Linked DNA regions of Homo sapiens. The protein of the gene in region 5 interacts with the protein of the main gene of each other region in a pairwise test. Each region holds a gene or a part of one and is shown on either strand. Other genes may lie near its edges.

Evidence for each region.
Region 1: the proteins of TAX1BP1 (region 5) and SSX2 interact in binary tests that used the Homo sapiens proteins (3 or more experiments, as listed by UniProt).
Region 2: the proteins of TAX1BP1 (region 5) and RALBP1 interact in binary tests that used the Homo sapiens proteins (3 or more experiments, as listed by UniProt).
Region 3: the proteins of TAX1BP1 (region 5) and UBASH3A interact in binary tests that used the Homo sapiens proteins (3 or more experiments, as listed by UniProt).
Region 4: the proteins of TAX1BP1 (region 5) and PLEKHN1 interact in binary tests that used the Homo sapiens proteins (3 or more experiments, as listed by UniProt).
Region 6: the proteins of TAX1BP1 (region 5) and LMO3 interact in binary tests that used the Homo sapiens proteins (3 or more experiments, as listed by UniProt).
Region 7: the proteins of TAX1BP1 (region 5) and CWF19L2 interact in binary tests that used the Homo sapiens proteins (3 or more experiments, as listed by UniProt).

What each region holds. Positions count from the first base shown.
Region 1 is NC_000023.11:52,704,379-52,708,664, reverse strand, and holds the start of SSX2 (protein SSX2), read left to right. Parts: upstream 1-1,486; 5' UTR 1,487-1,553; intron 1,554-2,895; 5' UTR 2,896-2,915; coding exon 2,916-2,984; intron 2,985-3,422; coding exon 3,423-3,537; intron 3,538-4,072; coding exon 4,073-4,168; intron 4,169-4,286.
Region 2 is NC_000018.10:9,524,013-9,527,512, reverse strand, and holds part of RALBP1 (ralA-binding protein 1), read right to left. Parts: intron 2,920-3,500; coding exon 2,758-2,919; intron 1,794-2,757; coding exon 1,662-1,793; intron 1-1,661. UniProt on the Homo sapiens protein: Multifunctional protein that functions as a downstream effector of RALA and RALB. As a GTPase-activating protein/GAP can inactivate CDC42 and RAC1 by stimulating their GTPase activity.
Region 3 is NC_000021.9:42,427,902-42,431,401, reverse strand, and holds part of UBASH3A (ubiquitin-associated and SH3 domain-containing protein A), read right to left. Parts: intron 1-3,500. UniProt on the Homo sapiens protein: Interferes with CBL-mediated down-regulation and degradation of receptor-type tyrosine kinases. Promotes accumulation of activated target receptors, such as T-cell receptors, EGFR and PDGFRB, on the cell surface.
Region 4 is NC_000001.11:969,482-972,923, reverse strand, and holds part of PLEKHN1 (pleckstrin homology domain-containing family N member 1), read right to left. Parts: intron 2,648-3,442; coding exon 2,501-2,647; intron 2,404-2,500; coding exon 2,323-2,403; intron 2,239-2,322; coding exon 2,166-2,238; coding exon of another isoform or gene 2,046-2,165; coding exon 1,918-2,045; intron 1,848-1,917; coding exon of another isoform or gene 1,812-1,847; coding exon 1,716-1,811; coding exon of another isoform or gene 1,705-1,715; intron 1,601-1,704; coding exon 1,520-1,600; intron 850-1,519; coding exon 774-849; intron 637-773; coding exon 500-636; intron 64-499; coding exon 1-63. UniProt on the Homo sapiens protein: Controls the stability of the leptin mRNA harboring an AU-rich element (ARE) in its 3' UTR, in cooperation with the RNA stabilizer ELAVL1.
Region 5 is NC_000007.14:27,795,662-27,799,161, forward strand, and holds part of TAX1BP1 (tax1-binding protein 1), read left to right. Parts: intron 1-454; coding exon 455-558; intron 559-3,500.
Region 6 is NC_000012.12:16,554,163-16,557,662, forward strand, and holds part of LMO3 (LIM domain only protein 3), read right to left. Parts: intron 1-3,500.
Region 7 is NC_000011.10:107,451,326-107,454,825, forward strand, and holds part of CWF19L2 (CWF19-like protein 2), read right to left. Parts: intron 3,248-3,500; coding exon 3,125-3,247; intron 1-3,124.

The DNA.
Region 1 (4,286 bases), on a different chromosome or scaffold from region 5:
GGGAGGATTGCTTGAGCCTAGGAGGTCGAGGCCAGCCTGGCCAACATAGCGAAACCCCATTTCTGCTAACAACAAGAACAACAGAAAAATAGCGTGGGCGGGGTGGCTCACTCCTGTAGTTTTGAGGCCAAGGTGGGAGCATTGCTTGAGCCCAGGAGTTTGATACCAGCCTGGCCAACAAAGCGAAAGCCTGCCTCTCCTAAAAAATAAATAAATAAATAAATAAATAAAAATGAGCGGGGTAGAATGGCACACGCCTATAGTTCTGAGGCCGAGGTGGAAGCATCATCTGAGCCTGAGAGGTTGAGGCCAGCCTGGGCAACATATCGAAACCCGGTTTCCACTAAAACGAAACAAAACAAAACAAAAAATAGCTTGGGCAGGGTGGTGCATGGCTGTAGTCCTGAGATGGGAGGATCCCTTGAGTCCAGGAGCTTGATGCCGGCCTGGCCAACATAGGGAAACACGGTTTCTACTAAAAAAAAAAAAAAAAAAAAAAGCGTGGGCAGGGTGGTGCATGCCTGTCGTCTCGAGGCCATGGCGGAAGGATCCCTTGAGCCCAGGACGATGAGACCAGCCTGGCCAACATAGCAAAACCTGGTTTCTACTTAAAAAAAAAAAAAAAAAAAAGCGTGGGCTGGGTGGTGAATGCCTGTAGTCCCGAGGCCGAGGTGGGAGGATCGCTTGAGCCCACGACGTCAAGACCAGCCTGGCCAACACAGCGAAACCTTCTCTATTAAAAAATCAAAAAATAAAAAATATTAGTGGGGGTAGGGTGGTTCGCGCCTGTAGTCCCAAGACGGAGGCTGGAGGATTGGCCAAGGCAGATGTAACCAATACCACAATCACATCCCATAAGTAAATACATTTTCCTCTCTTCAGGGCTACAGGTAAAGGATGGTAATTGTGCGCACCATACTTAAGATTCCCTTTCAAAAATGTAAGCAGAGGTTGCGGGGCCTTGGACTGTTTTTTCAGTGGCAACAGACATAGAAGCCACTGAAGAATGAAAGCCACGACTAAGTATAGCAAACCTCCGCAAATGTGCTAGTTTGGAAAACATCGTGTCTTTCAAGTAGAAAAATCACAGATTGACTATTTTTTTCTTCCCACAGTTCAGACTAGAATCCAGATTTTTAACCCAAGATCCAGGAACGGTCTTCAGAGAGTTCAAAATCTGACGGCGCCTGAGGACCACCCACTTTTTCGCAGTGGCAACAAAGTGTGGCTGGAGGAGGAGACATTATTCTGCTATGTCACTGCCCAAGGATGATGGACCAATCAGGGCAGTTAGTGAACTCCATCTGGCCAATTAGAAGTCAGAACAGTAGGCGGAACAAGCGAAGCGGATGTGGCTTCTATCAGTCCCGGCTCCAGGGACGGAACCTTCTCAAAGTGGGGGTGGAGACTCTAATTTTCCCGCCTAAAGCATCCCCTGGGATTGGCTACTTTAAGTTCAGAGTACGCATGCTCTGACTTTCTCTCTCTTTCGATTCTTCCATACTCAGAGTACGCACGGTCTGATTTTCTCTTTGGATTCTTCCAAAATCAGAGTAAGCATACGCCGATTTTCTTTTTCCATTCTTCCTACCCCTCCCCTCCTCCGCGGTGCATTTGCTATCTAGTTTTAATAAGGAGTGTATATGAGGCAGGCCGCCATCTCGAATCTTTCCTGTCAGTTTCTAACTTTTTCAGGTACGGGATTTTTCCTAGGAACTCTGTAGTAACTTAAGAAATTTGGGCCGGGCGTGGTGGCTTACACTTGTAATCCCTGCACTTTTGGAAGCCACAGCTGGTGGATCGCCTGAACCTAAGAGGCGGAGGTTGCAGTGAGCCATGATCACGCCAGTGCACTCCCGACTGGGCAACAGAGCGAGACCCTGTCTGAAAAAACAAAAACCAAAAAAGCTCACTCAAATCTTTCCTCCTGGGCTCAAGTGAGCCTCTCGCCTAGGCCTTGGGGCTACAGGCGCGCACCACCCCGCTTCTGCTAAATTTTGTTTGTTTTTTTTAGTAGAGATGGTTTTGCTACGTTTGCGAGCCTGGTCTCAAGCTCCTGGGCTAAGGCGATCCGCCCACCTTGGCCTTCCAAAGTGCTGGGATGGTACAGGCCTGCTCCACCAACCCCAGCTAACTTTTTGTGTATTTTGTAGACGGGGGTTTTGCTGTGTTTCCCAGCCGGGTCTCGACCTCCTGGGCTCAAGCGGCCTGCACGCCTCGGCCTCCCAAAGTGCTGGGATTACAGGCGTGAGCCACGGCGCCTGGCTGATTGCTGCATCTTGAAATGCCCCACATTCTCTCTAAGTGATGGCGGGCTCTTGTAGTCTCAGAAATTCTAGCTCTCTTCCTTCTAATAATTTACAAATCACCGAGTAATAGCCTCTGAACACGTTCATATTAGCGATGCTCATTTCTCTTCAACAGAACAGAACCCCCCATCCCTCTGCCTGATCAGATCCATCGCCAAAGAGACCATGTTATCTCTGGGACTAACTTCCCTTCCTTTATTTATTGAGTGGGGGTGTCAGCATGCCCCCACTGAATAAAATTACACAGTCATGTCCCTGCCTCCCCAAAAAGGGTCCGTACATCTTTCAGGGTAAGCCTAGCTCCAGGGAAACTACTAACAACATTAGCCAACCCCCTCCCAAAGACTCAAGGCTGCTTTGCCCATAGGAAACCTGTCATTCCCTATCAATACTTCTCCCAGAGACCCCTGGTTCCCTGTTTTCATCTGATTTCTCCCCATATCCTTACTCAGGGACAGATAAGCCCCGGATGGAGAAATGCAGCAGCTGATTCCAGGTGACTGAGGGTGGCCGGCCTTCACTGACTTCTCCCTCCACAGGATCAAAGCTGCTGTGGCTGGAAAGACTCAGGCTATTTCTCTTGCAGGTCAGACTGCTCCCGGTGCCATGAACGGAGACGACGCCTTTGCAAGGAGACCCACGGTTGGTGCTCAAATACCAGAGAAGATCCAAAAGGTGAGGTGACCTGGAGGGAGCAGAGTAGTGGCCCAGGGGACAGTGTGGGGTGACCCGGTTTCTGAGGAGGGGAGGACAGAGATACTGGAGACAAGGAGCAGGGTCTCGGGGGAGATCTGGACCCTTGGGAGCCTCCCACCCTCGCTCTGTCATCACCTAGCATCCCTGGAGACAAGTCTGTGACCTTGCACTACATCTGGTGACTCTCAGTCCATTCTGGAAGGTGGGAAGAGAGCCAGCCAGCAGCATTAAAGCCCTACTGTGTGGCAGGGGTGAAGCTAGGGAAGGTCCCTCGTGTTCTGTCAGTTAGCCATGGCATCAACCAGGAAGGATTATCATCCCCAGTTCCCAGATCTAGCACACAGGAAGCGGCTCCAGCTGAATGGCAGACATGCCTAGCTGAGTCCCTGCCATAATTCCTTTTTTTTTTTTTTGTAGGCCTTCGATGATATTGCCAAATACTTCTCTAAGGAAGAGTGGGAAAAGATGAAAGCCTCGGAGAAAATCTTCTATGTGTATATGAAGAGAAAGTATGAGGCTATGACTAAACTAGGTAACAGAAAGTTCTGGGAACAGACAAGTCTGGGGACACATGAGCATCCCTTTTCCTGCTTTGGCTACTTCTTAGGCTGCAGAAAGTACCTCACATTTTCCTTTTGTGCAGGGAAAAATCGCAAGGCAGCTTCTGGGTGTTCTGCTCTTCTGTATCCTGTCAGGGCTGAGGGCAGGGACTGGCCACAGTGGAGCTTATACCTGGATCCTGCACGTTTCTCTCCCTTAGGCTTCTGTTCTGATGAGCCCAACTGTCTCTGTGGCATCCCGGCAACCCCCCTACCCCCACCCCACACACACCCACCCTACCTTCTCTCGGCTTGTCTCTTCCTTTTTTTTTTTTTTTTTTGAGTCAGTCTCAGTCTGTCACCTAGGCTAGAGGGCAGTAGTGCAATCATAGCTTACTGCAGCCTTGAATTCCTGGCCTCAAGCAATTCTCCAGCCTTAGCCTCCCAAAGTGTTGGTACTACAGACATGAGCCACCATACCAGGCCCAAGCTTGTCTCTTAAGGAATAAACATTTTGCTTCTTTCTAGGTTTCAAGGCCACCCTCCCACCTTTCATGTGTAATAAACGGGCCGAAGACTTCCAGGGGAATGATTTGGATAATGACCCTAACCGTGGGAATCAGGGTGAGTAGATGGGAAGGGGCTGGAAAGGGTCTCCTCAAGCCCAGCTGCTTTTCAGCTCAGCTACCTGAGAAAGATCCTCAGGCATTTGTTCCCTCATACACATCAGGGCTGAGTGAAA
Region 2 (3,500 bases), on a different chromosome or scaffold from region 5:
GCTGGCGTGAAAACATAGCATCGGGAAAATCGGTAAAGCAAAGTTAATCCATCCCTTCTTATATTGGTTCTGGCTGCTATACCATGATTCCTTTATTTAGGCAAGATGTAGAAGCAAGAGAAACAAAAGCCAAACCTCCATCAGCCCTGTCCTAGGTCAGTCAGGGGACTCTTCATTTAAAGGCTGACTGGCAATGCCATATGATTAACAATTACAATTTGCCCCTGAAGCCTGAGTGGTCCATCTCTAATACCTGATTCTAGGCTGAGACATGAAGGGAAAATTTTAACAGCAACACCAACACCAAAAACAAAAAACACGTAAAGGAAGCAAGAGATAGATAACCTAGTGAGCTAGGAAAAAGAAGGAAGAAAAATACGCAGAGGGCTTCTGCTACATTACATATCCTGGAGCGCACGTGTAAAAGTCCCATGAATGTGCCCCGTGTGACAAAGCTATCCTCCACATTAATACAAATCTCTAACCTCAAAGAAACAGAAGTATTCAGGTTGTCTTTGTCTCTTTAACACAACCACAACAGAGACCTACTATCATGTTCCCCAATTCAGGCAAGGGCTAACTAATGTTCCTTGGATGTGCTGTTTAGATGCTGCAGTTGATCTGCAATGTGGATTTTAAGGTGATCCAGAGATCTGGGATTTTACCATTGCTGTGGCTGGTACACTCACAGTCCCAGAACCAAGCAACACACACTAAACAAGAGGGAACTCAAAAGTCTGACTGGCATACCCTAAACTCATCAGGTATTGCAGGCCACTCTTATTATTATTACATAAATAGAATCTCTCCTGATCTTCAAGGCCTTCCAGGTGACCCTCATCACTACATTTCCAAAGAGCTGACTAATTCTAAATGCCTTAAATTCCCCAGCAGTCCCCAAAGGTGTGTCACCATCCAGCCTGTTTTTCATCCATAGAAAGCCCTGTTTACAGGTATAACCAAGCAGGAAATGACAAATTTTTTAGTAAAATCATTTTTAATTAAAACAAAACTTTCTAGGCCAGGCATGGTGGCTTATGCCTATAATCCTAGCACTTTGGGGGGTGGGAGGACTGCTTGAGCCCAGAAGTTTGAGACCAGTCTGGGCAGCATAACAAGACCCTATTTCTACAAACAATAAAAAATGAGCCGAGCATGGTGGCGCACACCTGTAGTCCCAGCTACTCAGGAGGCTGAGGTAGGAGGATCCCTTGAGCCCAGGAGGTCGAGGCTACAGTGAGCCATTATCGTGCCACTGCACTCCAGCCTGGGTGACAGAGCAAGATCCTGTCTCAAAAAAAAAAAAAAAAAAAAACTTTCTAGATTACACTGAAACATGTGACTGACACCAGGCTGCAATATCAATAATATAGGACTAGAAACATTTTAGTGAATAAATGTCCCACCAGAGAAGTTCACTTCAAGTGACATTATAATATTCTTAACAGAAAGAACTTGGGCTGGGGGTGGTGGCTCATGTCTGTAATCCCAGCACTCTGGGGGAGGCCGAGGTGGGAGGATTACTTGAGGCCAAGAGTTTGAGACCACCCTGGTCAACATCAAAAGAAAAAAGAAAGAAAGAAAAAAAAAGAGTACATAAAGTACATAAAAGACTCAAACACATTCTATTATAAACATTAGGTATCAAAATAATAACTCACCTGTCTTTTAGCTTCTCTCAGTTTTCTTTTGAGGGCTGTCAAAATTCTTTGTACTTCCCATAATCTTTCTTCTTTAGACAAATCCTTTATCCCACCCTGCAGATCTCGATGTAAACAATTCAAAAGAAACTCCTAGAAAGCAAATGCCACACACCTAGTTGCATTTCATATCCTCTTATCTTAAACTAACAACACGTGCAATTTCTAAAGATGAAGAATCAACTATTTTTCAATTATCCTTTATTTCATTAGAGTAAAATAATGGCACTAATTATTTTTTTGAAGATATGATTGAAAAATCATTCTTATTGTTTTGCCTATTAATTATTCACTAATTTGTATTGGTTCAATAATACTTAATCCACATCCCCATCTCCAATGTCATCATCATTAACTAGTAAGCATTGGGAGCTCAGGGCAGATACAAGGGAAGAAAAGCAAGCAGGGGTTTGATAAATTGCATGCAAATAAATAATCAAATGTAATTAACTTTCTTATTTAGTCTTGAATTACACACACACACACACACACACACACACGGCATTGTTACTTCCATCAAAATAGCACAGTAAAAAATCCCAGGATTTGGGCTCAAATCTTGGGTCTGTAATTAGTAATCATGTCACACAGGGTAAGTTACTTAACTTCCCTGAATTTTAATATTCTTATCTATAAAATATGGCTGATGACAGCAACCTTGTCAAGAAAAGGCAAACATCTTTAGACTATTTACAACGTGCCTGGCATGTTTCATATATTATCTCATTTGGGGTAATCTTCACATCAATCCTATAAGAGGATCCATTTTAAAGCAAGAACACCAGTGCTTAAGGTGGTTAAGAATTTGCCTAAAATCAGTTAACTAGATCAGAGCAAGAATTTAAAGCCAGGTGTTTTGATTCCAAAAACTATGCTCTTTCCACCATGGTATTCTGACTTATTTGGCATGAAACAGTACCAGATGGGAATTTCTGACTTCAGTGTGCCTAACATAGCTCCAGACACACAGAAAGTGTTCAGGAAACAAGAGCCCATCACCACTGGACTCCACAACAGCCAATGCAGAGGCAGGCTGTGGCAGGCAGGGTGCACACACCTGTCTCCTGATCTCCTCCTTGATGCCCGCCTGGGTCTCTGGCAGCGTGGGCATCGTGGCCATGTTAGACCATCGCAGAGGTTTCATCACTTGCTTTAGTACCACATTTCCAAAGAGTTCTTGCACATGTGTGAAAAACACATACAGGACTCGATTGCTGATCTAAGAAAAAAAGATTTACAAGAAAACCATTAAAACTATCATTCTATTTCACTTATTTGTGTCTATTACATAATATATCCTTTAATCCTGGACACATAAAGAAAATTCTACCCAGTAATGACAACACAGTCTTTGCTAGTTAATAGCCAATTTAAGAAGAAAATGGTAAAATATGAGTTAAATCATGTATTCAAGCACCAGAAAGATCTGAAGGGAAAAAAAGTCAAGAAAAGGATAGAGAAGTTGATGCCATCCATTTGTTTATTTTTTCTATCACAGTATTAACTGATTTAAACATCTTATTTTTTGTGTGTTTTTTGTTGTTGGTGGCGGTGGTGGTGCTTTTTTGAGATGGAGCCTCGCTCTGTAGCCCAGGCTAGAGTGCAGTGGCACAATCTCAGCTCACTGCAACCTCCACCTCACGGGTTCAAGCGATTTTCCTGCCTCAGCCTCCCCGGTAAGCTGGGATTACAGGCGTGTGCCACCATACCTGGCTGATTTTTTTGTATTTTCAGTAGAGACGGAGTTTCACCATGTTGGCCAGGCTGGGCTCGAACTGCTGACCTCAAATGATCTACCCA
Region 3 (3,500 bases), on a different chromosome or scaffold from region 5:
CAGCCGCAGGATGGCCTTGGAGCCTTGCAGTTACAGGGCTCACGCCCGCCCTCTTTCTGGGGAGCCTGTGCTTTGGGGAAGTAGCCCAAAGGTCATGCTTGGGGCAGCGAGGCTGGCTACCCTTTGGGAGGGGCCTCCACTGTGTGGGATGGTGTTGTGGGGGGCTCTGTCCTCAGGGGCTAGGCCACCCTTCTCCCCATGCTGTGCAGGGCTGATCAAGTTGAGGGACTGGCCTTGAGAGGAACCCACAGCAAATGAGATGAAGAGAGTGAATGAGAGCTGAGGATGCCCCCCCTGGGACCAGAGAGCAGAGTGCTAGGGGCCGAGCCAGCTAGAGGCCACCAGGACAGCTGCGTGGAGCATAAGCCCTGCACCAGGACCCTGGAGGGAGACACCAGGCTCGGCTGCTTCCCTGGAGGGCACTAATGTGCCAGCTGACATCGGCCCTTCACCTACATTCCCAGCCCCAGAGCCAGGCCCAGGCTATCCAGGGGGGTCCATTTCAGAGCAAGAGGTGGGGAACCCTGCAGCAACACAGGCCCAGTGGTGCTGCCCTCTGGCACCCAGGACTCATGCCTCAACCTCCCTGTGACATGGCACCGCAGGGGGGAGCATGTCACATGCTGGTCCATGAAGCTGCAGTCCACAGCATCCCTGCTTTAGGGAGCTGCAGGTCTCCCTGGGCCAAGGGATGAACATGGAAAGATGAGTCATTAACAGAGATGGTGGGGGCAGAGCGAACACGGCCTGCCACGGGAGGTGGGCTGTGGGGCCTTCTGGGGACCAAATCCTGCCTGGAGCCCAGGCGACCAGGGATGGACGGGGTAGGGAGGACCCCTGGGCAGGAGGCAGCTCAGACAGGCACTATCCCTGCCCTGCTCCCTCTTGGCCACACAGCTCTCTCTGGGCTAAAATGAGAGGGCAGCTCTTGTGTGTGTTTTCCTACTGAGCAGGGTAAGGAAGAGAGGTGAGGAGAGGTAAGCCTTGTCTGCATAAACCCTCATACACCAGCCCCAGCATCGCCCTGATTCCCTCCAAATCCTAGAGAGGAAAATGCAAATGGCTTTAACATCCAAACACCCTCAGGGAGGAAGGGACTCATTTTCCACCTGGCCAGTGCAGCTGATCATTCCTGTCTGGACTTTCTTCTGTGAACAGTGATCCAGTCTCAAGGGTCTGCACTAACTGGCCACTCGCTCTGGCAAGAGTGGTCCCCCGTGGTGTCCCTGTACCTAGGGAAGTGATTGGAAACTACTGGGAAGGAAGGGACACCAGAAAGTAGGGTGGGGGCCAATTTCACCTGCCTTGAAAGCATTCTCGGGGTCAGCACCACGGGCAGCTCCTGCCAGATCCTGTGGATCCCTTGTGAAGTCCACGCTGGCCCGGACGATGCAGAATTTCCAGCTGCTGAAATTTATCAGGACCAGACAGTTCTCGGTGGCCCTGGCTACATTTGGTAGGTGCATAAACTATGGGATTGGTGAGCCAGTGAGAACGTTTGCAGTCACCATGCAAACACTTTCTTAGGGTCACTGGGCTGAGTCTTCAAAACGGATATACGGTAAGGCCAAGTGAATAGTATTGCTTTCCCTTATTGGAAAACTTCAGTTGTTTGTTTCAGGATAGAAACATGCATCTCCTGGGGAACAGCTTCAGGGGAAGGTTTGTCTTGCTGTCTTGCTCTCTTGCATGTGAAGTGTGGTTATGCAGAGGTTGCCTACACTGACACCAAGAGGCAGCACCCACCGCCCCTATCCCAGAATGAATATTAAAACATCCTAGAGAGCTGTAGAGAGCTGATCTGCAAGTAGATTGCAAAGCATGCATGCTCTTGGAAACTCATTCTGCCTAGTAACAAAGTCCCTGAAGTTTTCAACTTGCGGGCTGAAGTTTTGGATTTGGGGTATTTTCTTCCTGGAAGAGCTCAGAGCATTTTAAATGTTCTTCTGTGGAGCTTTGCCACAGGAATATGATGATAAAGCAAAAGAAAGCCCTGTGGGGAGTGGAATGGACTGACCCCTGGGATCTATGGAATGAGGCAGGGCTGCACCAATTCTCTAGACAGAAGGTGCTGCATTGGTGTCCTGGGGCTGCCATAACAGGCTGGGCGGTGCCAAGCAAGAGACATTTATTCTCTCACAGCTCTGGAGGCTGGAAGTCCAAAGTCAAGGTGTTGGCAGGGCCATGCTCCCTCTGACATTCTAGGGGAGAATTTATTCTTTGCTTCTTCCAGCTCCTGGTGGCCCCAGGTGTTCCTTGGCTTGTGGCCACATTGCTCCAGTCTCTGCCTCTCTGGCTGCATGGCCTCCTCTGCTGCTGTATCAGATCCCCTCTGCTTTTCTCTCATCAGCACACTTGTGATGGGGTTTAGGGCCCTCCTGGATGACCCAGGATCATTTCCTCATTTCAAGACCCTCCACTCAATCCCATCTGCAGAAACTCTCTTTCCTAATAAGGTCACATGCACAAGTTCCCGGGATTAGGGCATCATCTCTGGGGCCATGATTCTACCAGACCTGTGGCCAGTTGTCTTTTCTTACTGTAGGGAAGGGGTGAAATCCCTATAGAGAAGACCGTGTGAGGGGGGCCAGTTCACAGGCAGATGCATGTTCTGTTTTCAGCCATTGAAAGCACGGTTTAGACACAGGCTGAGCTACGAGCAGAGACTTCCATTCCAGGCTCTCCCCCTACCCAATACCTGGGTACTTCTCCACAGTACCCAGGTATTGGGTCAAATGTTATTTTAGATGTCACTGTGAAGGTATTTTTTAAAAATGAGATTAACATTTAAGTCACTAGGCTGAGTAAAACAGAATGGTCTCTGTTTTACTCCAGATGATAGGGTTGTTGGAATCCATGGTACTAGCTCAATCTTTTTAAATAGCTGAAAGTCCTTATTAAAAACATTTAAAGCTTTTTAAATAATCCCCAGGCCACAGCCCTGGGGAGTCTCGGCTCTCCCAAGTCTGGGCCTTTCTCACATGGTGAACGCTGATCGCCATTTCTCATGGACCCAGCTTCAGAGACACATTCTTGATTTCTCAAGAAAAGGCCTCCTCACCTAGCCACCAAGGCTGCAAAGACCTGCCAAGGCCACTTAGCTTTGGGCTGATTTGCACCAGCTGCCAGGAGGTGCAAATGGCGACAGGGACGCTGCGTGTGGGTTGACTGTTTAGCTTCCACAGCAGAAGTTTACTCTCCCACAGTCCTGGAGGCTGGAGGTCAGAGATGATGGTGTTGCCAGGGCTGGTTCCTTTTGAGGCCTCTCTCTGGGGCTTGCCGGTGGTGTCCCCTCCCTGTGTCCTCACAGGGCCATCCCTCTTGTGTGTCTGTTTCCTCATCCCCTCTTCTTATAAGGGCAGCAGTCAGATTGGATCAGATTGCATCACCTGTGTTGCCTCATTTAACCTTAAATACCTCTTTAAAGGCCTTGTCTACAAATACAATCACATTCAGTGAGACTGGGGGTTAGGACTTCGAGATAGGAATTTTGGAGGCAC
Region 4 (3,442 bases), on a different chromosome or scaffold from region 5:
GCACCCCGAGTCCCAGCTGGTCTGTCCGCCTGAGGAGAGTGAGCCTCGGCCACTGCCCATAACCTGGATGGGCAGTGAGTGGGGGTGAGTGAGGGCTGGACCCCCTCCCCACCCGCCCCTGCCTGGACCCACCGTGCTGTCCCCCCTTTTATCTTTTTGGGACGAAGTCTTATTCTGTCGCCCAGGCTGCAGTACAGTGGCACGATCTCGGCTCACTGCAACCTCCGCCTCCTGGTCAAGCGATTCTCCTGCCTCAGCCTCCTGAGTAGCTGGGGTTACAGGGATGTACCGCCATGCCCGGCTAATTTTTTTGTATTTTTAATAGAGACAGGGTTTCTCCACGTCGGTCAGGCTGATCTCGAACCCCTGACCTCAAATGATCCGCCCGCCTCAGCCTCCTAAAATGCTGGGATTACAGGCGTGCGCCACCACGCCCGGTCTGCTGCCCCCTTTTTACCACTGCCCAGGACCTGGGCTGTGGGGCCTATTGACCCCTCACCTGCGACCCTGGGAAGCTCTCGGCACCAGGCAGCGGCGGGGCCCCCTCCCTGTGGGTGACAGCGCGAAGGCACAGCAGCCAGTGACCGTAGTCCTCGTAGCTGGCGCACACCACGCGGATGGTGTTGATGAGGGGGCCTGGCATACAGATGCTGTGAGGGGCTGGCGGGGGGGTGCACCCCTCAGCGCCCCCACTAAAGAGTCGGGCGTCCCCCAGGCTCCCGCCCCACCATGGCCTGGCCAGGCGGGAGGCAGAACCAGGGTCAGGGCCCTACCTTCAATCAGGAAGGAGCGGATCTGCTTCTCCTTCTCCTCCAGGTTGATGTGGACGGCACGGAGTGGGAGCTCCCCCTGCGGAGCAGAGATTGAGGGCCAGGCCTTTGTAGGGGCAGCCCCGGGGCCCCGCCTGGCCTCATCCCACCCTCTTGCCCTCCAGAGCTTGGCTGGGTACTTGGAGAGCTGGGCACCGAGGCCACCACCCTGAGGGAGGCCAGTGGGTCCCATGTCTCCTGGGGCTACCACCAACCCTGGCGCGGGGGCCTTCGCCGGCTAGGGGCAGACACACAAAGCCACAGGACTGGCCTCTTGGGGTCCCCAGAGAAGAAGTTGGGCCGGGTGAACCATGGGGAGGGCCCTGTGTTTGTTCCTCAGTGACTGAAGGTTACCGTGAGTGCACACCCCCTTCCCGGAGCCCGCCCTGGAGGACACACGCACACGCACGTGTGCACACACACGCCTCACGGGCAGGCACACACAAGGGAGTCCCCGGGAGGGGCTCTCAGCCCCATGCTGCCCGCCCCAGGGTGACGGTCAAGAACCTCAGGGTGAGAACCTCAGGGCGGGCAGGGGCTCCTCCATGTCACAGCGGAGACCAGACTGACCAGGACCGCGGGCTGGGTGGGCAGGGCCCTGCGCTCTGTCTCAACAAGCCCCGAAATACAGGTTCCTCCTGCATGGCTGCCCCCTCCCACCCCCACACAGCTGCCTCCCTGGGGCGGGCCCACAGTGGGGAGGGGCCCACCTTGAAGCAAAGCCCGTCCAGCTCCTCGGAGAAAATGGCCAAGGACGTTGGGTACAGGACCAAGAGCCGGTCCCACTGCTCCTGGGTGGGTGGGGGTGGGGTCAGGCGATGAGGGAACTGAGCTGCTGTTGCACCGCCCTGCCCACCACCATGCACCCCTCCCATCCCCCTACAGCCCCACGCACCTCCCACCCACCTGTGCGGGCAGGTGCTGCAGCTTGACCCTCGAGGCACAGACAGCACTGCCGCCGGGTTCGTGCCCTGACGCCGTCCGCAGCCGGGTTAGACGGCGCTGCAAAGTCCAGGGGAGTTCGTCTCCGCAGGACCCCTGTGAGGAGGAGGTCAGAGCCGGCTGCGAGGATCAGGGTGGGGAGGGGGGTGGGGTCCCCGGCACTGACCTGTGGGGGTGCCGAGTGGCAGCGCCGCGGCCCCCCGAGGAGGGCCGTCTGCTTCTCCAGGTGGTAAAGCCAGCGGTCCAGCTCGGCCCGGCTGGGGCAGAGCACCAGGAGGGGTGCGGGCAGTGGGCCTGCGGGCAGGGCAGAGAGGGCACACACATACACACACGTGCTCCGCAGCCACAGGGCAGGCCCCTCTCCAAGTCCTGGGTCAGGAGTGCCTCTGGGGGCCCGGGAAGCATCCCAAACACCTGTGATCTGGAAGGCGTGCTCTCGGGACCCCTCGAGCGGGCAGACACTCAGCTCCGTCAGCGGTAACAGCCCCTGCCAGGCACAGGGTAGGAGGAGCTTCAGGGATCCATGGAGGGAAGGGCGGCCATGGCCCCACCCCATTGCCCACCGCCTCACCTGAAATGTGAGTCCTTCCGAGCCGTGGGCCTGGAAGTACAGGTGGGCGGGGAATAGCTCCAGGTAGCAGTCGCTGACATCCTGCGCGGGGAGCAGGGTCGTCAGTGCGGAGTCTGGGGAGCCCCAGGCTGATGGGGATGCTGCACCCTTAGCGTGCTCCACCCAGCCCGGCCCCCACCTGGCTGTGCTGGAACCGCAGCTGGACCTTGGCGTAATGCACAACTTTTCCCAGGTTCCTCACAGGCACCCTCCGCCGCCCCTTCTTGAACACACTCAGGAATGGCTGCTCCAGGTTTTCTCGCTGGTTCTCCAGGTCCAGGATGTCCTAGGAGGAGTAGAGCTCAGGGGAGGGGGCCTCCCCTGGGCCCCCCACCCCCTCCGCTCGCATCCACACAGCTACAGGACTATAGCATGGTCTGCCTGTGCATAGCCACACAACACATATGTGAAGAACAGCCCCCCACAGGCACAGAACCTGTGCACAGCCACACAACACATACGTGAAGAACAGCCCCCCACAGGCACAGAACCTGTGCACAGCCACACAACACATACGTGAAGAACAGCCCCCCACAGGCACAGAACCTGTGCACAGCCACACAACACATACGTGAAGAACAGCCCCCCACAGGCACAGAACCTGCACACTCAGCCTTTCCACAGGAAAACAGTCACGGCAGAATTTACACACACGTGCATACATATATGCATACATGCATATTCGTGTACACGTACACGCACACACACCCGATACGTGCACATGCAGGCAACATGCATGCATCCATATATGCGCACACATACACATGTATAAATGCATACACGCACACATGCATACACACACAATAGACACATACATGCCACACAATACAGACACAGATGCATACACACGGGAACACACATACGCACTTATACACACATGTACACACACGCACACATATGCATGGATACACACGTGCACACATACACAGTTGCACATACACAGATATGCACACACGTGCATACATGCATACATATCCACACGCAAATACACCCATACACATGTATACACATACACACGTGCACATACACACGTGCACACATACACATGCACACCTATACACACATGCACACACATGCATGC
Region 5 (3,500 bases):
CCTGCCTCAGCCTCCTGAGTAGCTGGGACTACAGGTGTGTGTCACCACGCCTGGCTAATTTTTTGTATTTTTAGTAGAGACAGGATTTCACCGTGTTAGCCAGGATGGTCTCGATCTCCTGCCTCGGCCTCGACCCGCCTTGGCCTCCCAAAGTGCTGGGATTACAGGCATGAGCCACCGTGCCCGGCCGCTTTTTAGCAAATTTTTAAAAAATCAAAGAATAATCCTTTATTATTGAATGCGAACTTGGTTCTGGCCAAACACACATTTAACAATTCTCAACTAGAGTTTATATATCCTTCTTTGTATATCTAGGATATGAATAGATATTTCTGTCCTTCAGCATTCCATTTACTATATTTTACAGTATACTGACCTTTAAGTTATTCTGAACAGGAAGATAATATAAGGGGCAAAATACTTTTTAACAGTCTTATATTCTGCCTTTCTACAGCAGAGGCAGATTTTGACATAGTAACAAAGGGGCAAGTCTGTGAAATGACCAAAGAAATTGCTGACAAAACAGAAAAGTATAATAAATGTAAACAACTCTTGCAGGTAAGTTAACTACCTTGTAAGTGAAAGAGATTTATAAAATGTTAATGACTTAGCTTACCTTTATTGTTTCAATTGATTGGTATCTTTGAGTTTCTTTTCCATCTCCATATAGTGTTACTTAGTTTCACTTTGGCTTTTGGGATGATGAGGTGGGCGTTTTGTGTACCTGTTCACATAGGCGTGTGTGTAGCATCATGAGACCTAAAGTTACTATTTTCTTTTCACCTAATAAAATGTTCTTGTTTGGGTAATGGGCAAATAGTTAATTGAGGTTAGAAATTATCTGTCATCGTATAAAGATGCATGAAAAATATTTGAACTTCATAAAAGGGAAGTGCTGTTTTTAAATTTACTATTATCGGCCAGGTGCGGTGGCTCACGCCTGTAATCCCAGCACCTTGGGAGGTCGACGTGGGTGGATCGCTTGAGGCCAGGAGTTCGAGACCAGTCTGGCCAACATGGTGAAACCCTGTCTGTACTAAAAATACAAAAATTAGCCAGGCTGTGGTGGAGCATGCCTGTAGTCCCAGCTACAGTCTCCTGAGGCAGGAGAATCACTTGAACCCGGGAGGCGGAGGTTGCAGTGAGCCGAGTTTGCACACTGTACTCCAGCCTAGGCAACAGAGCGAGTCTCTAAAAAAAAATAATAAATAAAATAAATTACTATTATAATAGCAAAGATTTTTACATCTTAAAGTGACTAGACTTGCATAGTGGAAAAGGGAATGTTAACCAAATGAATTGTCTCTTACGGTGTTTATTTTGATTATTATTATTTTATTTTATTTTTTTTTTTGATACGGAGTCTCACTCTCTCGCTCAGGCTGGATTGCAGTGGCGTGATCTCAGCTCACTGCAATCTCCGCCTCCTGGGTTCATGCCATTCTCCTGCCTCAGCCTCCCAAGTAGCTGAGACTACAGGCGCCTGCCACCACACCCAGCTAATTTTTTGTATTTTTAGTAGAGGCGGGGTTTCACGATGTTAGCTAGGATGGTCTCTATCTCCTGACCTCGTGATCCACTCGCCTCGGCCTGTCAAAGTGCTGGGATTACAGGCATGAGCCACCGCGCCCGGCCTATTTTGATTATTTTAAACAGCTTCATTCAGACTTTTCTGGTTTGCAGCCTTCTTGGTGTAGTATTCAGTACTGGAATATTTAAAGGAAAAGGGAAAATGCTTCTCATTTATATCAATTTGGCATAGAGAGGAAAAAGTGTTGTTTGTGCAAGTGATTTTTGTTTGTTTTTTTAAATGTGCTTTGTGTGTTTTTGTGTGCATTGGGGAGGGGAGGGGCATTTTTTAGAGCTATAGAATAAAATTTACACATTAGCTTCATGTTACTGTAATTTAATTTACAGTAATTATTTAAAATATTTTGTTGCTTATAAATAGCAAAATCTTTTAACCAAAGTTAAAATGAATTTTTTTTTTTGCTTGAGAGAATCCTGTGGAAGGGTTGATTAGAACAGTTTTACTCTTGAATTCAGGGTAGTTTTTTGTAAGAGTGAACTACATTTTCGTTAAAGATGAAACAATTCTGGATGAATATTTCAAGATTTTTCTATAGAAATAGTATTGAAAGGAAGATAGAATAATGTTCAAGCAAAAACCTTCCTCAGGGTGCTTTTTTTTTTTTTTAAACAACCATATTGAGGTATAATTGAAATCCAATGAATTGCACGTACCTAGAGTATACAGTTGGATCAGTTTTGACATACACAGTTGTGAAACTATCACCACAGTGCCATCACTCTCCCAGTTTTTTTGGTACCTGTTTGCAACACATCCCTTTCGTTATCCTTATCTCTAGGAAATTATTGGCCTGCTTTCTGTCACTATCAATTAGCCTACCTTTTAGACAATTTTATAAAATGGAGTCATGTAATATGTACTTTTTTCTACCCACTTTCAGCATGATTATTTGAGATTTATTCATATTATTGCATATATTTATTCCTTTTTTATTTTATCATTTGTTTATCCATTCACCACTTGATGGGTAGTTGGGGTTGTTTTTCGGCTGGTACAAATAAAGCTGCTTATGAACATTTGTTTAGAAGTTGTTTATGGACATATGTTTTTTTTTGTTTCTTTTGGGTAAATATCTAGGGGTGAATTGCCTGGGTGATATTGTAGTTGAATAACTCTGTAAGAAATTACCTCCTGGGTGCAGTGGCTCATGTCTGTAATCCCAGCACTTTGGGAGGCCGAGGTGGGAGCATCACTTGAGGTCAGGAGTTTGTGACCAGCCTGGCTAATATGGTGAAACCCTTTCTCTACTAAAAATACAAAAATTAGCTGGGCATGGTGGTACACTCCTGTAATCCCAGCTACATGGGAGGCTGGGGCAGGAGAATCGCTTGAACCCGGGAGGTGGAGGTCGCAGTGAGCCAAGACTGCACCACTGCACTCCAGCCTGGGTGACAGAGTGAGACTCTGTCTCAAAAAAAAAAAAAAAAAAGAAATTACCAAACTGTTTTGTAAGGTGTTTGTACCATCTTACATAGCCAGCCTAATGGGTGTGTACTGATAGCTCATTGTGGTTTTAATGTGCATTTGTATAATGACTTGATGTTGAGCATCTTTTCTTATGCTTATTTGCTCTTTATCTCTTTGTGTGAGTGGTCGAATCTTTTTGGTAGTTTAAATATAGGGTTGTTCATCTTGAGTTGTGTTTTTTTTTTTTCTGTATATGTCTTTTGTCTGATATATGTAAGGTGAATATTTTCTCCAAGTCTGTAGCTTGCCTTTTCATTTCCTTAATGATGTTTTTAGAAAAGCAAAATTTAAATTTTGATAAAGTACAGTTTATCAGTTCATTTATGTTTTATGCTTTTTACCTTCTAAGGAATGTTTGCCTAATCCAAGGAGATAAAGATTTTCTCCTGTGTTGTCTTCTAGAAGTTTTATAATCAGCTTTTCTATTTAGGTCTGTGAATCA
Region 6 (3,500 bases), on a different chromosome or scaffold from region 5:
AGAAGTATATGAAACAAGTGTAAATAGTAAATCATCCTTATAAAATATAGTGCTTAGTTTTAAGCAGGTTATCAAAAGCCTATGCTAAGAAGCCTCCACTGGTAACATCCCTTTTAAGAAATAAAAATGTTAGCCTAGCCATCTTCTTTCCCTAATGTTAGTGACTGACAATTATGATTAATTTCTATCTTACAACACTTAGCTAGGGAGCTCCAATCCATATTTCTAGTGTCTATACTTTCCTATTCCACATCTTCAGTTAACTGTAAGTTAGAGATTTCTATACTATACTGTTTTCAATAAGAAGTCCGGGTTGTGTACTCATTCCTCCACTATACACCTGTGAACAAATTTACTGTCTTTCCCACTGACAGTCCGGTTGTCATTATACATCTCACTGCTAACAACCCTTAGTGTATCAAATGACACTACCCACACCCCAAATCTTGCTATACATTATTCAAAGTTTACCTTACTTTAAGTCCACTATATCTATTCACATTTATATGCTCTTAGTCAGAAAATAAAATACCTCTCTTGAAATGGGCCTGACTCCGGAGAGGGAGACCAGATTCGCTCCGCCTCCCGGGTTCCCGCCATTCTCCTGCCTCAGCCTCCCCAGTAGCTCTGACTACAGGCGCCCGCCACCTCGACCGGCTCATTTTTTTGTATTTTTTAGTAGAGACGGGGTTTCACCGTGTTAGCCAGGATGGTCTCGATCTCCCAACCTCGTGATCCGCCCGCCCGCCTCGGCCTCCCAAAGTGCTGGGATTACCGGCATTAGCCACCGCGCCCGGCCAGGTTTAAATCTTGAGTCTACCACTTTCTTCTAACTGTAATCTTGGGCAAGTTACTTACATTTCCTATACTTTACTTTCCTCATCTGTCAAATGAAGCTAATAACTACCTATTTATGGGATATTTTGAGTATTAAACGAATGAGTACATGTAAAACACTCAGAACGGTGTTTGGTGTTTGACTAATACTTTATCAGAATTTGCTATCATTATTATTTGGTAATGATAATCTTTTCACCTTTACTTAAGTTGTTCCCTAGCAAGAAATATTTCTCCCCTTTTTCTGTCTACTTAAATTGTAACAATCCTTGAGTTCCCATTGCCTCCATCAACATCTTCTGACCATGTAAATTTGCTTATTCTGATGTTTCCCAAAGCACTTATTTATTGGTGTATTGTTTATTTTGGTGTTTCAAAATTTCTCATGAATGTGTAACTGGTTTGCCATTATAGTCAGCAGTTCTGCGGTAAATGACCACGAGTTATATTTCTTTTGAACCCTTTGCAGAACCATCATAAACTGTACTACCACTTAAGGTGTGTGGTCAATAAAAATTGGTTAAGGTAGATTTATTCCAGAAACCAACAGCTTTAAATAACAAATGTATTTTAGATGACTAATTTAAATTTGTATTCATTTTGACTTTTATTTAATGGCTTTTCAAAGACTAAGTTTACAATTTCATTTCCTCTAGGTGCTTGCTCTCTTTCTACTCCTCCATGTGCCTACCAAACCGCTTCTCTAATCTCTGAACATACTGAGCCGCTTTTCATTTCCTAAACACGTCAAATGCTTTCACATCTGCATGCCTTTGCACGTTGCTCAATTTGCCTGAAAATTCCTTTCCTCACTGCTCCCTGGCTCCCTCATCTTCCCCAACCCCGAGCAGACACACTTCCTGTAAGTCAACCAGTTCTAGGGAGTTCTTTTTTCAAGACCCAGCATATCAGGCCTTTGATGCTTCCCTAACACTTCAAGAAGGATGGCTCTCTCTTCCCTCAGTATAGCTCTATTTAGCATCGATTACACTCTTCTGTGAGTCTTTGATGTCCTGTCTCTCCCGTAGCTCCGGACACCTCTAAGAAATAAACCAGATTTTATCCACCTCAGCTTCCACAGAGCCTAGCACAGTGCTTTATTCTTAAAAAAAAGAAAATTAATTAATTGTTACATAATTTTACATATTTGGGAAAATTTCATCACAAGCTTTTTATTTTTCCTTTTCTTACAAAACTATCATTTAGTTTTATTGTGTTTTCTAAGGAGAAGGGGCTTATTCACCTTTAAGAAATTAACCTGTTATATAGAATCTTCCAATTCTGAATGAGATTCAAGATATCATAAAATAAGCTTAAATAACCCTCCTGCGGTACCTTTTAAAATAGAGAAACTAGCCGAATTTTAATGCAGGATTCACGTTTTAGCTATACGCCTCTAAAAGGGGCAGAGGAGATCTATATATAAGGGACAATCAATCCTGAAAGGTTATTATTACTGCTACTTTTTAAAACATTCAGAAATGCTTTGGATCTTAATGATACTTTGATTTAAAGGTAAAGATGAAATGACTGCTGAATACAATTCACAAACGCGTAATTCCACAACTTTAGACGTCAATAAAGTTTGCTTAAGAGAAAATGCCTATGAATTACCTATTTGCCTTGTGTTTCACTTGAAAAGTGCAATATTGCGACAATGATTTGGCTACTGGAAGTGGGATATGGGTTTCCTGGAGGAGACTGAAGCAAACTTCAGAGTAAAAGGAGAATCTCCTATATGAAAACCTTCTGTATCCTGGGTAACAAAATTTGTCTGCTTTGCTTGACTGATGAAGATTAGCTGACTTCCCGCATTAGTTTGTCTTGTAGGGGCTGAAGTGACAAGACAATAACTAAGTGCTAATTGTGCATAACCGGCACTAAAGATATGCAGTCCCATTATGGCATGTAATAAATGAAGCGAACACAGAAATATATTAGGTACTTTAATAATGATACTAGAATAGTATTTCGCAGCAATAAGAATGTGAACAGTTTTAGAGTCAAAATTTAGGAGTGTTTGTCTTACTTGACTGAGTTCTCCTGAGGAGACAGACTTAATTGTGAATGCAACTTTTTATTTCAATGGTGAAATAAAATAGATATATGATTTGTAAATAGCATTAACAACCTACAATTACTTTGCATCATAATAGAATTTAGGCTGGGTTTAGCACTTGAATGTTTTTATTTTCTATGTAGAACATGGATAAAATAGGTAACCCTACTTAATAGAAGAAAATGGACAAAGGACATAAACTGCCTACTTCTCTAAAAGAAGGAATACCAAAGGACCACCAGGGATCAAATAAATGCCAGTTAGAAATTATAATGAAATACTATCTTTCATCCCTTAAGGTGGCAAGGATTTTTTTTTTTTTTTTTTAAACGTAATTCCTAGTGTTTTAGAATGAATGTGAGGGAATGCGTAGTTTTGTAGATTTCTGCTAGGAGAATAATTGGTATAACTTTCCTGGAGATCATTAAGCAATGTACAGCATATGCCTTCAAACTGTTATATACCTTGTTTAAGTAATCATGCTCTGTGAATTTAACCAGATAGAGATATGAGCATTTGTTTTTATACAATCTGAATATCTACATTTAGCAAGAAACTCTATTGTGATATATGTCTTGTGGGAAAGTCAAGTTAGTGGACTATT
Region 7 (3,500 bases), on a different chromosome or scaffold from region 5:
GAGAAAATTTTATAAAATAAATACACGTTAGAAAAGATTTCAAATCAGTGGCGATACATTCATCTTAGAAAGTTAGAAAAAGAAGAGCAAATTAAACACAAAGTATTCGCAAAGAATAAATATAGTTTAAATCAATGAAATAGAAAACACACAACCAGAGAAAATTCAAGGAAACTAAAAGGCAATAAAGAAAGATTAATAAAACTGATAAGCCTCAAGACAGACTGACAGAGGAAACAAACAGAAAATAGAAATTACCAAAATCAGGGATGAAAGAGGGGTATCACTATGGATTCCGTAAACATTAAAAGAACAAAGGAAATATTACAAATAACTTTATGACAATAAATTTGACAATTTCTATGGAATAAATTCCCAGAAAAACCGAAATTACTAAAACTAACTCAAGAATAAACAGAAAGTATTTAACACAACTATTAAAGGAATTAACTCTGTCGTTAAACCCATTCCACAAAGAAACTCCAGGACCAAACCGTTTCACTGGCAAATTTTAACACTTATAGATGCAAAAAAAGCACTTACCAAATTCAATACTCATTCAAGATACAAACTCTCAGAAAACTAGAAATAAAATGTCATTTCCTTAATCTGAAAAGGCATACATGAAAGTCCCACAGCAGACATCATGCTTAAATGTAAAAACCTGAATGCTTTGCACCTAAGATAAGGAAAAAGGCAATCATGTCCACTCTCACCACTTCCATTCAACACTATTTTTAAGTCCTAGCTACTGAAATAAGGCAACAACAATTAACAAATAAAACAGGCACAGAGACTGAAAAGAAAAAAGTAAAAGTCTTTTTCACACATGACATACCATTTACCTAGAAATCCTAAGAAATCTACTAAAAAAGCTACTAACACTAGTATTAGTAATTTTAACATGGTGATAAGAGGCAAGGTGAATATATCAAAAGCAGGTTTTTTTTCACTTTTTTCTTTTTTTTCTGATCCTAATGTTTCAAGTCACTTCTATAATTACATACTAGCTGTAAACACATTTAATTTAAAATTCCACTCACGATAGCACTTCCAGAAAACAAAATGGAAAAAAAATAACAAACGACATGTAAGATCTCTACACTAAAAATTTCAGAACATTGTGAGAAAAATCAAAGACATAAATGGATAGAGAGATGTACCAAGTGCATAATGGATTGAAAGAATATTTTAACATATCTATCTCCCTAAATTCCTTCCAATAGGGAAAATTCAGCCTTTTCAACAAATGATGCTAGAAAAACTGGAAATCCACGTGGGAAAAAAATAAACTGACACTACACAACATAAATAAAAATTATTAATGGATTATAAATAAGCAAAAAAGCCAAAGCTATAAAACTTCTAGGGAAAAAAAATAGGAGGCCAAGCATGGTGGCTCACACCCGTAATCCCAGCACTTTGGAAGGCTGAGGCAGGAGATCACTAGAGCCCAGGAGTTCGAGACCAGCCTCGACAATATAGTAAGACTCCATGTCTACAAAAACAACTTTTCTGTACTACATCTGTAGTCATAGCTAATTGGGCTGCTAAGGCAGCAGGATTGCTTGAGCCCAGGAGTTTGAGGCTGCAATGAGCCATGATGGTGCCACTGCACTCCAGTCTGTGCAACATAGTGAGGCTCCATCTCTAAAAACAAACAAAAAACAAAAAAATTTAATAATAACATAAACATAGGAGAAATCACAATCTTGAGGTGCGCAAAAATTAGGATACCAGAAGCACTAAGAAAAAATGATGAAAAACAAAAAAGAAAATATTTAATAAATCAGATTTCACAAAGACATGGAATGCCCTATGGGGACTTAAAATGATGCTCTACATCCTTGTTCTTCAGAGAAATATCACACGAGACATTACACAGTAGAATAGCTAAAAATTACTAAGACTGACAATACCAAGTACTAGCAAGGATGTGGAATTCCTTGGTGACTCCTAGTGCTAAACTTGCCTCAGAGCCAATGGACAGGTGGTTGGGGGGCAACTGGTGCAGCTAAGGGAGTGCTTACACCACCTCTCCCCCAACCCAAGGCTGCACAATGTGCAGCTCCAAAAGAGACCCTGTCCTTCTGCTTGAGGAGAGGAGAGAGAAGAGTAAATACAGGACTCCATCTTGCATCTTGAATACCAGCTCAGCCATAGCTGGTAACCACTAAAGAGCCCTTAGGCCCTGAATAACCAGCACCAATAATCGGGTACTACACTGTGGCCTTCACTGTGTATCTGAGACTTGCTGGATTCAGGTGAGACTCAGCACATTCCCAGCTGTGGTGGCTATGGGGAGAGCCTCCTTCTGCTTGAGAAAAGTAAAGGGGGCTCTGTCTTGCGCCTTAGGTACCAGCTCAGCCACAGGGTGGTAGAACACCAAGAGGGATCTTGGGGTCTCCAGCCCCACGCCTTGGCTCTTGGATAGCATTTCTGGATCTGCCCTGGCCCAGGGGGTGCCCACTGCCCTGAAGGGTGAGTCCCAGGCCGGGCAGCTGACTGAAGAGTTCTTGGGCCTTAAGGGAACATCAGTGGTAGCCTGCCAGTACTACCTGTGGGTCTATGGTGGTGGCTACAGGGTGAGGCCCCTCTGCCTGTGAAAAGGGAAGAGTGGGAAGGACTGCCATTCATAGGTTGAATGCCAGCTCAGCCACAGTTCAATAGAACACCAGGTACAAGTCTAAGGTTTTTGACGCCAGTACCTGGGTCCCTGATGGCACCTCTGGACCCACCCTCAGGCCTGGGGGAACTTGCCACCCTGAAGGGAAAGACGCAGGCCTGGCTGGCTTCATCACCTGCTGATTGCAGAGCCCCAGGGCCTTGAGTGAACACCAGCTGTAGCCAGGTAATTGTTACAGCAGGCCTTGGGCAAGATCCAGTGCTGTGCTTAGCAATAATTCCCAAATCATATCCCTATCCTCTTAGCCTTTCTCTGAAATTCAAGATCAACATTTCCAATATTTTCTGGACATCTCTAAGTAGATGTATCCCAGATATTTTCATATCATAACTAGTAATATATTTTTTACGTTTTCTTGTATTTTAACTTCCCATAAGTTACACATTCAAATAAAATGTTCTCAAATAGCTGCTTTGATTAATTTTAGTACATACTTACTGATGAGCTATCAGATGACTCATTGTTTTTTTCATATTTCTGTTTCTTGCTCTTTTTTTTCTTTTCTTTCTTTGCTTTTTTTGAATGCTTGTCTTTTTTCTTCTTTTTCTTCACAGAGTGTTCCTACAATCATTTTGAACAGGCAAGAAAATAATTTAATTTCATCTTAATTTAAAAGGATGTATTCTGAGAGAAAAAAAATAAACCACATTCTAAAAAACTTTCAATCTCTGATGAAATAAGACCAAGAATATGTCTAAATAAATAAAATCTTTCAGGAAATCTTAACACACCTTCTATAATATATGCACTATCAATAAATCATATAACTGAGACTTCTTACCAGAAAAATACTGGGAAAATTTTGGCTTTATTT